2 separate regions of the Homo sapiens genome follow, and region 1 is linked to region 2. A link means that fine-mapping ties the variant in region 2 to the expression of a gene that starts in the linked region. Tissue or cell type: whole blood. Region 2 holds a variant in brackets; the other region holds the start of a gene. All regions are shown on one strand. Distances are between the middles of the regions.

Region 1 (8,105 bases), 590 kb after region 2:
CCGCCTCCCTGGTTCAAGCGATTCTCCTGCCTCAGCCTCCCGAGTGGCTGGGATTACAGGTGCCCACCACCATACCCAGCTAATTTTTGTATTTTTAGTAGAGACGGGTTTCACCAGGTTGGCTAGGCTGGTCTTGAACTCCTGACCTCGAGATCCGCCCACCTCGGCCTCCCAAAGTGCTGGGATTACAGGCGTGAGCCATTGCGCCCAGCCTCAAGGACTACTTTTTGAAGAGTTTGGGAAATCAAGATGGGACTCAGGGAGAGTGGAATCACCCTTCCTAAAGATCCTGCAGATACCCAGAACAGTTGGCACAGACCTGTCTAGGGAGGAACCCTGTCCCCCATGTCCTGAGGCTGCTCCCATCCCTTGGTTTCAGGGCTCCCTGTTTTATGGAGAAGCCTGATTTTATTCATTCTCATTCAATTCAGCCAACACTTGGTGAGAGCAGCTCCAGTGTGCAAAGCCTTCTGCTAGGTCTAACTTCCTCCTGTCAGACGTGAGGTTGTAGGATTTGGAGATGGCGCTACCAGGAGCCACAGTGCAGACAGGCAGGGTGTGCGGCCAGCTGTGGGTGAGCATTCCAAATCCAGGATCAATTGGTTGAACACCTTAAGCCAGCCCAGAGCAGGTATTCTGGAGCCTTGGGAGGTCAAGGTCTATGATAAAACATTGAGGGCATCACACATTGCTCCAAAAGTAGTAGTGACATAGAAGAAAATTAACATTTGCTGCTTTTTTCTCTGTATTCAGAACTGGGCTAAGTGTTTTACATTTGGTCTTCACAATTCTGCAAGGCAGGCATTATTATTCCCATTTAAAGCTGAGGAAACTGGCTGGGCGAGGTGGTTCCCGCCTGTAATCCCAGCACTTGGGGAGGCTGAGGCGGGCGGATCACGAGGTCAGGAGTTCGAGACCAGCCTAGCCAACATGGTGAACCCCCTCTCTACTAAAAATACAAAAATTAGCTGGGCATGGTGGTGGGCACCTATAATCCCAGCCACTCGGGAGGCTGAGGGAAGAGAATCGCTTGAACCTGGGAGGCAGAGTTTGCAGTGAGACGAGATTGCTCCAGCCTAGGTGACAGAGACTGACTTGGTCTCAAAATAAATAAGTAAAAAAAATAAAATAAAATACAGCTGAGGAAACGGACACTTGGGAAGGACTCTTCAGTTTGCCAGCAAGGAAGAGGCACGACTAGGAGGGGTCTCCAATCCGCTGGCCAGAACAATTTGGATATCCAGGCCCTTGTCGAACAAAAGGCATGTTGAGGACAGAAAGTAACTTGCTAATTGCTACCTAGGGTCTTATCCAAGTCAGCAGTGATCCAAATTAAGACTTCCTGACCTGTATGTAGTCCTATCTTCTGTCCTGAGCCAGACTGTGTCCCTAAACACACTGTGTTATTGGCATTTTGGCCAATTAAGTGACCTAAATATCTGGGGTGGGCCTCATTTATGGAGATTGAAGGACCTGGGATCAGGAGAACTCTGGGCAAGAAATTGCTCCTGGGGAAAAGAGAGGAAGCTTTTGCAAATGTCTGAACAGGTTTCAGAACATGGGGCCAAAGATCACCTTGTGAGAGTGAAAATGCAAATCAACTGCGATATGCAAATCAAGCAACCCAAACTAATTAGAAAATACTGGTTGCCATGGCACAGTGGCTCACGCCTGTAATCACAGCACTCTTGGAGGCCAAGGCAGGCAAATCACAAGGTCAGGAGTTCGAGACCGGCCTGGCCAACATGGTGAAACCCGCCCCCCCCCCCCCCCCCCGCCTCTACTAAAAATACAGAAATTAGCCGGACGTGGTGGCAGGCACCTGTAATCCCAGCTACTCGGGAGGCTGAGGCAGGAAAATTGCTTGAACCCAGGAGGCGGAGGGTGCAGTGAGCTGAGATCGCACCACTGCACTCCAGTGTGGGTGACAGAGCAAGCCTCCGTCTCAAAAAAAAAAAAGAAAAGAAAGGGACACTTTTAATCACAACCCAGAATTTCTGATCAGTTCTCTCTGGATAGTTCCAGCCCCCTCTGAGAGGTAGCTGTTTCTGTTTAGAGTGAAACAAGGTGCTCTGGGCCTGACAAACAGCTCAGTTTGCCTGGGCTATTAAGCTAGAGGCTAAAAAGGGGCTTCCCTGACTCAAGCATTTGGTACTCCCTCAAAACTTCAGTCAGACTGTGGCAGTTCCTGCTTGTCGGGAGGCTGGGCAGGATGACGAAAGGTCCCTTGCATCTAACCATTTCCCCTGGACTGCCTCCCCTCCCCACAGATCCCTAGCCCCTTGAAGCCATGCGGGGTCCAACCTGTAAAGTTGTTGGAGATTCTGCAATCCCCTCTAGGGCAGCAGTCTTTGAAGCTGCAGTACCACGTGGTCAGGAGGTCCAGGTACCGCTGGCCCAACAGAGGAAGGCGCCAGCCTGGAAAAGGAGGAGCTGTGAGACCGAGAGGAGACCATCCGGTGCTCTACAGTGATGCGGCAACCTTGCCACACAACTTGTCAGGGACAGAGGGACACCCAGAACTCAGATTCTAACTCCCAGCCCCGACTCGGCCCACTGTCGGTCCTCAAGCCCTGCGTCCAAAAGCAGCAAGGGAGACGGCAGTCACCAGGCATGTCCACAGCGGACGTTCCCTAGAGCTGTCAAGAGCAACACCTTCGAATAACGCCAGGGTGGGCTGGGAGATGGCACAGGCGGTGCGAGAGAATCTGGAAAGCGCAGGGATCAGGGGAGGCGGGGGACGGGAAGCCGGGCGCCAGGGGGGTGCGCAGGGGACGCGGGTGGGGCAAGGGCGGTGATGGGGCTCCCTGCTCCGCGGAGGCTGCCCCCGCCCACAGCCGGTACCGGCGGCTGAGCAGAGCAGGACTGCGGGCCCAGATGTCGCCCCGGACAGGAGCGAGGCGACCACAGCCGCGCCCGGATCGCACTCTGCTCCGCAGCGAACGGCGGACCGTGGGGACGGGGTCTTACCCAGGGGCCCCGTGGCTGCCTCCTCGTCCTCGTCACAGTCGTCGGGCCACACCTGGCAGCTGAAGAGCGTCCAGTACCGCTTGGAGAGGGCACCCGCCGCCCTGAGCTGCTCCTGCAGGCGCTGGAAGCCCGGCCAGGCCCAGGCCGAGCCCGGCTCGTCGGTTCCCTCCCACGGCCTGGAGGCGCCGCGGGGCTCAGGCGCGCCCGGGAGCAGCAGCAGGAAAAAGAGCCAAAGCTGGCGCCACGGACCGCGAAGCATGGCCGGCCCCGAGCTGCGGGACCATCCGGCTGCCGGCCTAGCCAGGCTCCCTTAAGCCCGGGGCGGTCAGGCGGGGACCGCACTTCCTAGGCGGGCTTGAACCCGGGATTGGTGTTGCTGTGGCGACCGGCGGGCCGGGCTGAGTGCGCACTGGCAGCCTCCGTACACGTGACCCAGGCGGGAACCCGAAACCCTGTCTGGGGTCCTGAGAGGCAGTCCCGAGACTGACTTCAGGCCAGGTGCAACTAGCCGGCTTCCAGGAAGCAGTTTATTCTGGGTCGTGATTGTGGTTGCAAAGAAGGTGAACTCAGGCTTTGAAATGGCCACTGTCAATCACTCCGCTAGGACTTTCGGACGGCTCTGGTGGCCCATCAGAGGCCTACCGAATAAGGACACTCCTGCTTTGCCTCGCGTTTGCAGATCAACTTCCCGCCAACCTGTTAGAGGAAGCCGGAAAACCGTCTCAGTCAGGAGCGTTAGGCAGGCCAGGGGAGTCAGCTGAGTGGAGAAGAGGCCCTGGAAAGAAGGGCACAGCTAGGTGCCTGTCTGGCCAAGGTTGCCCTGGCTCCTCCGCAGAGGGAAATGAAACCGCAGCAAAACACCAGCAGGTTTCCACAGTGGGAGTCCACGAAAAGCAAGAGGAAGCTGATTGACGGGCTCCAGTCTGGAGGTGTTTGGAGTTTGGAAACCCCCCGAGTCATGGGTAAATCATGAGGCGTCATGTCAATGTAATTATATCTCATAAAAATCCGAAGTACTGTGTGCACTTTCTTGACTAGGTTTGCAACTTTCAAGTGCTGGGACTGAGCAGCCCATCCGACACCATTGGCAAAAGACTACAGGGCCTCTTTCCCTCAGCGCTCTCTTCTCCATAGCGAGGAGCATGGAACAAGGCTGTTAGATTTCAGAAGAGCTTAATGCATTGTTTAAAATCACCTGGCTTACTTCAGCCAAGCCAAAAAGCCGTCTTGTCTTAGGAGAAAACTGCTGTCTAGAGAGATCAGAGGACTTGGCTAATGTCATATGTTTAGTGGCTTTGAGGTTGGGCCCTCCAGACAGTAAGGTGAATACTAGCACCGTGTCTCACAAATGTCACAGGCAACTTGATTCATCTGTTCACCCCAGTCTCTTAGATCACACCGTGCCAGGTCTGCTCCATTCTCAGCAGCTCACCAAATTTGTGCCTTTCATTCGAACAGCTACAGAAACTAGATAAAGCACCTTTGCTAGGACACGAGGTTGAGTTGAAAAGTAAAATGTTTATAGTGTCTCAGCCATTCAGTGTGATGTCAAAAACTTTTCATAGAGTAGCAGCCATGGCACCAGCCCAGCACTGTGTACATCGAGCTTGCGGAGTCCACCGGAGACAGTTAACAGCACATACACCACAGTGCTTATTGGAAAACCAAAAAAAATTAGGCAGGGTGTGGTGGCTCACGCCTGTAATCCTAGCACTTTAGAAGGCCGAGGCGGGCGGATCACCTGAGATCAGGAGTTCGAGACCAGCCTGGCCAACATGGTGAAACCCAGTCTCTACTAAAAATCCAAAAATTAGCTGAGTGTGATGGTGCGCATCTGTAATCCCAGCTACTCAGGAGGCTGAGGCAGGAGAATGGCTTGAACCCAGGGGGCAGAGGTTGCAGTGAGCCAAGATGGTACCACTGCACTCCAGCCTGGGTGACAGAGCAGGGCTCCATCTCAAAAAAAAAAAAAAAAGAAAAAAGAGAAAAGAAAAAAAATTAACTCACTCAACAAATGTCGTTTGAGTCTGAATGGCAGTCTAATATAGTGATTACCATTTTCTATTTGTGCAACCATGGATGTTACTGAACCGTCCCATGCCTGTTTCCTCACCTATAAAAAGGGATAATAAAATAGTCCCCTCATAGGGCTGCTGTGAAGATTAAATGAGCTCATTCAATGAGCACATCATCAACACTCAATACGTGGCCAGTTTTATTTTTGTATCTACCCAGCCATGGAGGAGGCTCTGGGTGGTCTACACAGGAGGCAAGGATGGCTTTAGTTAATACTGGTGGTTTATAAGTGAATTTATGGTGAAAAAATTAATAGTAACAATAGTTTATTAAAACAATCCAAGTTTTAAGATGTTGTGGAAAGAATTATCTGTACTTGGAACTTTTATGTAGGGCTACCTGCTCATTTCTGAGATGTTCTGACTTGGATTTAGCATCCCATTGTAAATAAAGTAGGTTAGCTGGGAAGTTCTTCGACAACCAACTTGATTTCAAGACATTTTTATTATTTATTTATTTATTTATTTATTTATTTAGAGACGGAGTCTTGCTCTGTCGCCCAGGCTGGAGTGCAGTGGTGCAATCTCGGCTCACTGCAACCTCCGCCTCCCCGGTTCAAGCGATTCTTCCCCCTCAGCCTCCCAAGTAGCTGGGATTACAGGCGTTCACCACCACGCCCCCGCTTTTTTTTTTTTTTTGTATTTTTAGTAGAGACGGGGTTTCGCCATGTTGGCCAGGCTGGTCTCGAACTCCTGGCCTCAGGTGATCTGCCTGCCTGCCTTAGCCTCCCAAAGTGTTGGGATTACAGGCGTGAGCCACTGCGCCTGGCCGTTTTTTTCCAAAAAAAAAAAAAAAAGAGGTAAACACTTTTTCACCAAAGAGTCAGTCCCGTGTAGAAACAATAAATCCAAACACCAGTTTCTAGATACGTCTCTTGAGTATTTCAATAAATACTCCTTTCCGTCTCAGGCCTTGGAGGCTGTGCTCGTTTTAAAGTTCTGGAAGCAGTATCTCATGGATGACGGGGACATCTAGAGGCTGCTGGGAAAACTACAGACAACTATGATTCTTTAGCAAGCATTACGGTGCTACTCAAGGGCGGTTCCAGAACCCCACCACTGGCATCACCCAGGAGCTTGTTAGAAATGCAGAATCTCAGGCCCCAGACATACTGAATCAAAACCTGCACTTTAAGAAGGTCTTTCTGTGCAGGGAGCCATGGCTCATGCCTGTAATCCCAGCACTTTGGGAGGCTGAGGCAGGAGGGTGGCTTGAAGCCAGAGTTTCAGACCAGCCTGGGCAATAAGGCTAGACCCCTTGTCTCTACCAAAAATAAAAATAAAAAATAAGCTGCGTGTGGTGGTGCGCGCCTATAATCCTAGCTACTTGAGAGGCTGAGGGAGGAGGATCACTTGAGCTCAGGAGTTCGAGGCTGCCAATGAGCGATGATTGTGCCATTGTACTCCAGCCTGCGTCAAAGCAAGACTGTCAATCCAAAAAAAAAAAAAAAAGCCTAAGGCAAAATTGGCACACAACACCTTTATTGATGTCATCTGAGTATGACCTAGCTTTACAACAGACATCTTCCCAACCCCACTGAAGGCAATCAGAACCATCTGCCTTGGAAACACTGGGTCAAAAGCAAGTCTCGGCCTGGGACGGTGGCTCACGCCTGTAATCCCAGCACTTTGGGAGGCCAAGGCAGGTGGATCACTTGAGGTCAAGTGTTTGAGACCAATCAGCCCGGCCAATATGGAGAAACCCCGTCTCTACTAAAAATACAAAAATTAGCCGGGCGTGGTGGCATGCGCCTGTAGTCCTGGCTACTCGGGAGGCTGAGGCAGGCGAATTGCTTGAACCTGGGAAGCGGAGGTTGCAGTGAGCTAAGATCGCGCCATTGCACTCCAGCCTGGGCACTGCAGTGAGATTTGGTCTCAAAAACAAAACAAACGCAAGTCTCCATATTTAAATAACCCTGCATGAGAAACATTACAGGAATGTTTCCCAGCTCATCTATGTTCCTTTAACATCTACACAGCACTTGAGGTGGACTGAGAATGTCCTCAAGAGACAGGGCACACAAACATTTCCTAGAACAATGAGAAACCCCTGAAGCGATATTTCTGGTGACCCAGATACTGAAAATACAGGCCCAGAAGGCCCTGTATCCACTAAGCAAATAGTTCTGCATTTCCGGAGTCAGGGGTTCTATACACACCTCTCGTCAAGCCTGGATCAATCTCCACTTTTTCAATGTAGGTACTGCCTAACCCAATCCCTCCCAATCCCCACCTCCATGATCCTCTCCCGTTTCTTATTCTCACTGCAATTAATTTATATAATTCCTGAGGGACTTGGTGCCTCACAAGCAGTTTTTTTTTTTTTTTTTCTGCCAGGTCTAGACTGCAGGCTCTTTGAGGGAAAAGACAGTCACTATCATCTCAATGGTATACCACAGCTTGCAGCACAATGGCCCACAGATCTACTGATGACAGACCAAATATCTCACAAATTGTGATTTAATACCATTATTCCTTGGGGCTTATACTGCAACTTACCTTACAAAACCCTACCCATGGAAATCCAGTGGCTATGACCATTCCTATCTATTTTACAAAATGACGACTGCTAAAAATCAGTCTAATAAGCAAACATACTAGGTAAAATTACCCAGTAACAGAGCCCCGCCCTCCCTACTCCCAGCTACCTTTTTCAAACTCTAATACCAGTCGTTCTGATATGCTTGAGAAGCAAATGAATCCTGAACTCTAGCCTGGAAAAGAATTTGTATGTGGTGAGTCAGTGAGATACACAGACCAGGCTCTACTAGCCTCCCACATGTATTCATGTACAAATGACAAAAACTAGCACAAATATGCTGCAAATAAAATAGTTTTGTTTTGTTTTTTGAGACAGAGTTTCGCTCGTTGCCCAGGCTGGAGTGCAATGGCACGATCTCGGCTCATTGCAACCTCCGCCTGCTGGGTTCAAGCAATTTTCCTGCCTCAGCCTCCGAGTAGCCGGGATTACAGGCGCCTGCCACCACACCCAGCTATTTTTTTTTTTTCTTTTTTTGAGACTGAGTTTCACTCTTGTTGCCCAGGCTGGAGTGCAATGGC
Region 2 (8,105 bases):
GATAAATTCCTTGAAAGACAAAACTACCAAAGTTTACTTGAGAAGAAATTGATCATCAATAACCTTGTATCTATTAAAGACATTAGCTTAAAATACCTTCCTTCAAAGAAAACTCTAGGTCCAGAGGTCCTCATTATTGAATTCTACCAAACATTTAAGGAAGAAATAATATCAATTCCACACAAATTCTTCCAGACAATATTAATAGAAGAGGAGGAAACACTTCCCAACTTATTTTATGACAGCATCATTATCTGGATACCAAAACCAGACAAAGACATTATAAAAAAAGAAAACTATAGACAAATATCCCTCATGAACATGGCCATAAAAATCCTTAACAATATTTTAACAAATAGAGTCTAACATTCTATAAAATGGATAGTATATCATGACCACGAGGGCATTATCCCAGGAATGTAAGGTTGGTTTAATATTTGAAAATCGATATAATTCACCATCCCATAAACAGTCAATTAAAACAAGCAACAGCATAACCATCTCAATAGACGCAGAATAAGCATTTGATAAGATTCAACACCGATTCATAATAAAAACTATCAGAAATCTAGGAATAAATTGGAACTTTCTTAGCCTACCAACAGCATCTACAAAAAGGCTACAGCTAACATTACACTTTATTTGTAATAAGATAAAATGCTTCCTATAAGATCAACAACAATGCAAGGATGTCACTCTGGCCTCTCCTATTCAACTCTATAATGGAAGTCCTAACCAGTACAAGGAAAAGGAAAAATGGCAAACAATTTCACAAGTAGTAAACTGATTTTTTTCCCCCACATATGAAATGTCTATACAGAAAATCCCAAAAGAGCTATTAGAACAAATGAGTTTAGCAAGGTCACGGAATATATGAAAACCAACTATATTTCTATATACCAGTAATAAAAAAAATTGAATTTAAAATGCCATTTATTCAACAGTATAAAAATATTACTTAGGGATAAATTTAACAAAAGATGAAAAACACCTATGCACCTGAAAACTACAAAATATCATTGCTAGAAATTAAAGAAGAATAAATGTTTAAATATAGTCGATTAAGATGGCGGATAGGAGGCAGGACTACTCTATAGCTCCTGCCTGGACGGACAAAGTGGCATGTGGAGACTCACATCATGAACTTATGTTCCTGTGGTAGTTCTTGGAGCAAATAGGGAAAGCTGAGAGGATCCACAGACCCTTTGAAGAAACTGGATCACCCCTGAAGTTTCCCTGAGATGCTGAAAAACTGTGAGTCTGCTTGCTTTCTCAACGGGGAGGCTCATGGTCTGGGGCAAATTCTCAGCCCTGGTCACCAGCTGCCTAGAAATAGACTCGGTGCTGTTGAGGGAGCCACGGTGGGAGTGAGACTAGCCTTTAGAACTGCAAGCTACCCTGGGAGCGGAGTGAGGCCCGTGACTGCCGGCTTTCCCCCACTTCCCTGGCAACCTGTATGACTCAGCAGAGGCAGCCATAATCCCCCTGGGGGTGTAATTCCACTGGACTGGGAACCACACCCCCACCCCCATAGCAGCCGCAGCAAGCCCTTCCCAAGGAGGGGCTAAGCTCAGACACACCTGTCCCTGCCCCCACCTGGTTGGTGATCTTTCTCTACCTGTCTTGGTAGCCAAAGACAAAGGTCATAATCTCTTGGGAGCTCTATGGCCCTGCTCACTGCCTGAGAAACCTGAGTACTTAACCAGGTATGCCTAGGGCAAGTTTGCATCCTCCCTATAGGGCCACAGCTGATGTACTTTTGAAAGCACCACCTCCTGGCTGGAGGTCAACCAACACAAAGCCAGTGTACTAAACAAAAACACAACCAAGGACCCTCAAAGAGTCCACTTCACTTCCCTGCTACCTCCACCAGAGCAGGTGCTGGTATCTATGGCTGCAAGACCTGAAGATGGATCACATCACAAGACTCTTTGCAGACTCTCCCCAGTACCAGCCCAGAGCCCAGTAGCTCCACTTACTGGCTAAACCCAGAAGAGCAAAAACAATCACCACAGTTCAGTTCTCAGGAAGCCCCAATCCTAGGGGAAAGAAGAGAACACCACATCAAGGGAGCATCCCGTGGGACAAAAGAATCTGAACAGCAGCCCTTGAATCCCAGATCTCCCCTCTTATATACTCTACTCAAATAAGAAGGAACCAGAAAAATCATTCTGGTAATATGACAAAATAAGGTTCTTTAACACCCCTAAAAGATCACACCAGCTCACCAGCAATGGATTCAAACCAAGATGAAATCTCTGAATTGCCAGAAAAAGATTTCAGAAGGTTGATTATCAAGCTAATCAAGGAGGCACCAGAGAAAGGTGAAGTCCAGCTTAAAGAAATCAAAAACATGATACAGGATATGAAAGAAAAATTCTTCAGTGAAATAGAAAGCATTAATAAAAAACAATCACAACTTCTGGAAATCAAGGACACACTTAGAGAAATGCAAAATGCACTGGAAAGGCTCAGCAATAGAATCGAACAAGCAGAAGAAAGAACTTCAGAGCTCAAAGACAAGGCTTTTGAATTAACCTGATCCATCAAACACAAAGAAAAAATAATTTAAAAAAATGAACAACGCCTCCAAGAAGTTTGGGACTAGGTTAAACATCCAAACCTAAGAATAGCTGGTGTTCCTGAAGAAGAAGAGAAATCTAAAAGTATGGAAAACATATTTGAGGGAATAATCAAGGAAAACTTCCCTGGTCTTGCTAGAGATCTAGATATCCAAATACAAGCAGCTCAAAGAACACCTGGGAAATTCATTGCAAAAAGATAACTGCCTAGGCATACAGTCATCAAGTTATTTAAAGTCAAGACCAAGGAAAGACTCTTAAGAGCTGTGAGGCAAAAGCATCAGGTAACCTACAAAGGAAAATCTATCAGATTAACAGCAGATTTCTCAGCAGAAATCTATAAGCTAGAAGGGACTGGGGTCCTATTTCTAGCCTCCTTAAACAAAACAATTATTAGCCAAGAATTTTGTAGCCAGCAAAACTAAGCTTCATAAATGAAGGAAAGATAGTCTTTTCCAAACAAACAAATGCTGAGAGACTTCGCCACTACCAAGACAGCACAGGAACTGCTAAAGGAGCACTAAATCTTGAAACACATCCTCAAAATACACCAAAATAGAACTTCCTTTAAAGCATAAATCTCACAGGACCTACGTAACAATAACACAATGAAAAAAACAAGGTATTCAGGCAACAAATAGCATGATGAATAGAATAGTACCTCACATCTCAATACTAACATTGAATGTAAATGGCCTCAATGCTCCACTTAAAAGATACAGAACTGCAGAATGGATAAGAATTCACCAACCAAGTTTCTGCTGCCTTCAGGAGACTTGCCTAACACATAAGGACTCACAGAAACTTAAGGTAAAGAGATGGAAAAAGATATTCCATGCAAATGAACACCAAAAGCTAGCAGGAGTAGCTATTCTTATATCAGACAAAATAAACTTTAAAGCAGCTGCAGTTAAAAAAGACAAAGAGGGACATTATATAATGATAAAAGGACTAGTCCAACAGGAAAACATAGCAATTCTAAATATACATGCACCTAACACTGGAGCTCCCAAATTTATAAAACAATTACTACTAGACCTAAGAAATGAGATATCGACGGCAACACAATAGCAGTGGGGGACTTTAATACTCGACTGACAGCACTAGACAGAAAGTCAACAAAGAAACAGTGGACTTAAACTATACCCTACAACAAATGGATTTAACAGATATTTATAGAACATTCTACCCCACAAAATGCAGAATATATATTCTATTCATCAACACATGGAACATTCTCTTAGACCACATGATAGGCCACAAAACAAGCCTCAGTAAATTTAAGGAAATTGAAGTTATATCAAGTACTCTCTCAGACCATAGTAGAATAAAATTGGGTATCAACTCCAAGAGGAACACTCAAAACCATGCAAATAGATGGAAATTAAATAACCTGCTCCTGAATGATCATTGGGTCAACAATGAAATCTAGATGGGGATTTAAAAATTCTTTGAGGGCCGGGCGCGGTGGCTCACGCCTGTAATCCCAGCACTTTGGGAGGCCGAGGCGGGCGGATCACGAGGTCAGGAGATCGAGACCATCCTGGCTAACACGGTGAAACCCCGTCTCTACTAAAAATACAAAAAATTAGCCGGGCGTGGTGGTGGGCGCCTGTAATCCCAGCTACTCGGGAGGCTGAGGCAGGAGAATGGCATGAACCCAAGAGGCGGAGCTTGCAGTGAGCCGGGATAGCGCCACTGCAGTCCAGCTTGGGCGAAAGAGTGAGACTCCGTCTCAAAAAAAAAAAAAAAAAAAAAAAATAATAATAATAATAATAAAAATTCTTTGAACTGAATGATACAATCTATCAAAACCTCTGGAATACAGCAGAAGTGGTGCTTAGAGGAAAGTTCATAGCATTAAATGCCTATATCAAAAAGTCTATAAGAGCACAAATAAACAATCTAAGGTTATACCTCACAGAATTGGAGAAACAATGACAATCCAAACCCAAACTCAGCAGAAGAAAGGAAATAACCAGGATCAGAGGAGAACTAAATGAAATTGAAACAATAAAAGGTACAAAAGATAAGTGAAACAAAAAGTTGGTTCTTTGAAAAGATAAAAATTGAAAGACCATTAGTGAGATTAACTAAGAAAAGAA[G/T]AGAGAGGATCCAAATAAACTCAATTAGAAATGAAATGGGAGATGTTACAACTGATACCACAGAAACACAAAAGATTATTCAAGGCTACTTTTAACACCTTTACAAACGTAAACTAGAAAACCTAGAAGAGATGGATAAATTTCTGGAAATATACAACTGTCCTAGATTAAACCAGGATGATACAGAATCTCTGATCAGACCAATAACAAGCAGTGAGATTGAAATGGTAATAAAAAAAACTGTCAACAAAAAAAGTCCAGGACCAGATGGATTCACAGCTGAATTCTATCACACATTTAAAGAAGAATTGGTACCAATCCTATTGACAGTATTCCAAAAGATAAAGAGGAAATCCTCTCTAAATCATTCTGTGAAGCCAGTATCACCCTAATACCAAAACCGGGAAAGGACATAACAACAACAAAAAAAAACTACAGACCAATATCCCTGATGAACACAGATGCAAAAATCCTCAACAAAATACTAGTGAACTGAATCCAGTAACATACTGAAAAGATAATCCACCATGGTCAGAGGGGTTTCATACCAGGGATGCAGGGATGGTTTAACATAAGTCAATAAATGTGATACACCACATAAATAGAATTAAAAACAAAAATCACTTGATCACCTCAATAGATGCAGAAAAAGCATTTGACAAAATCCAGCATCCCTTTATGATTAAACCCTCAGCAAAATCGGCATATAGGGACATACCTTAAGGTAATAAAATCCATCTATGACAAACTCACAGCCAACATTACACTGAATGGGGAAAAGTTGAAAGCATTCCCCCTGAGAAATGGAACAGACAAGGATGCCCACTTTCACCACTTCTATTCAACATGGTACTGGAAGTCCTAGCCAGAGCAATCAGACAAGAGAAAGAAATAAAGGGCACCCAAATCGGTAAAGAGGAAGTCAAACTGTCACTGTTTGCTGATATGATTGTATACCTAGAAAACCCTAACGACTCATCCAAAAAGCTCCTAGAACTGGTAAATGAATTCAGCAAAGTTTCAGGATACAAAATTAATGTACACAATCAGTAGCTCTGCTATACATCAACAGTGACCAAGCTGAGAATCAAATCAAGAACTTGTGAAAGGAAAATATCTTGCACCCCCAAAATCACTAAGGAAAACTCAAGCTGGAAACTGCTTAGGGCAAACCTGCCTCCCATTCTACTCAAAGTCACTCCTCTGCCCACTGAGATAGATGCATATCTGATTTGCCTCCTTTGGAAAGGCTAATCAGAAACTCAAAAGAATGTAACCATTTGTGAATCACCCATCTGTGACCTGGAAGCTCCCTCCCTGCTTCTTGCCTTTGCTTCAAGTTGTTCCATCTTCCAGACCGAACCAATGCACTTCTTACATATATTGATTGATGTCTCATGTCTCCCTAAATGTATAAAACCAAGCTGTGCCCTGACCACCTTGGGCACATGTCATCAGGACTTCTTGAGGCTCTGTCACAGGCACATCCTCAACCTTGGCAAAATAAATTTTCTAAATTAACTGAGACCTGTCTCAGATTTTCTGAGTTCACAAACTCAACCCCTTTCACAATAGCTGCAATAAAAATAGAATACTTAGGAATATAGCTAACCAAGACGTGAAAGACTTCTATATGGAGAAAAACAAAACACTGCTGAAAGAAATCATAGATGACACAAACAAATGGAAACACATCTCATGCTCGTGGATGGGTAGAATCAATATTGTGAAAATGATCATACTGCCAAAAGCAATCCACAAATTCAGATCAATTCCCATCAAAATACTACCATCATTCATCACAGAACTAGAAAAAACAATCTTAAAATTCATATGGAACCAAAAAAGAGCCCACATAGCCAAAACAAGACTAAGCAAAAAGAACAAATCTGGAGACATCACATTACCTGACTTCAAACTATACTATAAGGCCATAGTTACCAAAACAGCATGGTACCGGCATAAAGATAGGCACATAGACCAATGGAACAGAATAGGGAACCCAAAAACAAAGCCAAATACTTACAGCCAACTGATTTTTGACAAAGCAAACAAAAACATAAAGTGGGGAAAGGACACCCTATTCAACAAATGGTGCTAGGATAATTGGCAAGCCACATGTAGAAAAATGAAATTAGATCCTCATCTCTCACCCTATATAAAAATCAACTCAAGATGGATCAAAGACTTAAATCTAAGACCTGAAACCTTAAAAATTCTAGAGTATAACATTGGAAAAACCCTTCTAGACATTGGCTTAGGCAAATAATTCATGATCAAGAACCCAGAAGCAAATTCAACAAAAACAAACATAAATAAATGGGACTTAATTAAACTAAAAAGCTTCTGTACAGCAAAAGAAATAATCAGCAGAGTTAACAAGACAACCCACAGAATGGGAGAAAATCTTCACAATCTATACATCCAACAAAGGACTAATATCCAAAAATCTACAAAGAACTCAGCAAGAAAAAATGAAACAATCCCAAAGGACTTGAATAGACAATTCCCAAAAGAAGATATACAAATGGTCAACAAGCATATGGAAAAATGCTCAACATCACTAATTATCAGGGAAATGCAAATTAAAACCACAATGTGATACCACCTCACTTCTGCAAGAATACCCATAATCAAAAAAATAAAAAAATAATAGATGTTGGCATGCATGCGGTGGAAAGGGAATGCTTTTATGCTATTGGTAAGAATATAAACTATTACAACCACTATGGAAAACAGTGTGGAGATTCCTTAAAGAGCTAAGATCTACCATTTGATCCAGCAATCCCACTACTAGGTATCTACCTAGAGGAAAAGAAGTCATTATACGAAAAAGATACTTGCACACACATTTATAGCAGCACAATTTGTAATGGTAAAAACATGGAACCAGCTCAAATGCCCATCAATCAATGAGTGGATAAAGAAAATGTGATACACACACACACACACACACACACACACACACACACACACACACCATGGAATATTTCTCAGCCATAAAAAGGAACGAAATAATGGCATATGCAGCAACCTGGATGGAATTCGAGACTATTATTCTAAGTGAAGTAATTCAGGAATGGAAAACCAAATATCGTATGTTCTCAGTCATAGGTGGGAGCTAAGCTATGAGGACGCAAAGGCATAAAAATGATACATTGGACTTTGGGGACTCAAGAGAAAGGGTGGGGGGTTTCGAGGGATAAAAAACTACACATTGGGTACAGTGTATACACTCAGGTGATGAGTGCACCGAAATCTCAGAAATCATCACTAAAGAACTTTCAAGTAACCAAACACCACCTGTTCCCCAAAAACCTATTGAAGTAAATTTTTTAAATTTTAAAAATCATATAATTTGTCCTAGGTTTTTACAAAATATTTTATGAAAATTATACATAAGAAGTACAGTATAACT

What was found. PIP is the estimated chance that this variant, and not a neighbour inherited with it, causes the effect.
Region 1: it holds the start of TOR3A, and the variant in region 2 is fine-mapped to the expression of TOR3A in whole blood (TOPMed, PIP 0.99).

The regions. Positions count from the first base shown.
Region 1 is chr1:179,077,253-179,085,357 of GRCh38, reverse strand. It overlaps TOR3A (torsin family 3 member A), which reads right to left and starts at 3,288. Exons shown (of 6, transcript NM_022371.4): 1 at 2,971-3,288; 2 at 2,305-2,418. The coding sequence starts at 3,229. RefSeq lists silencers at 1,664-1,723, 2,714-2,883, 3,024-3,313.
Region 2 is chr1:179,671,512-179,679,616 of GRCh38, reverse strand. The region is part of intron 17 of TDRD5 (tudor domain containing 5); the gene reads right to left. Among named protein-coding and RNA genes, the nearest start is that of FAM163A, 68 kb to the left of the region's middle. The variant G/T (reference allele first, on the strand shown) is at 4,688.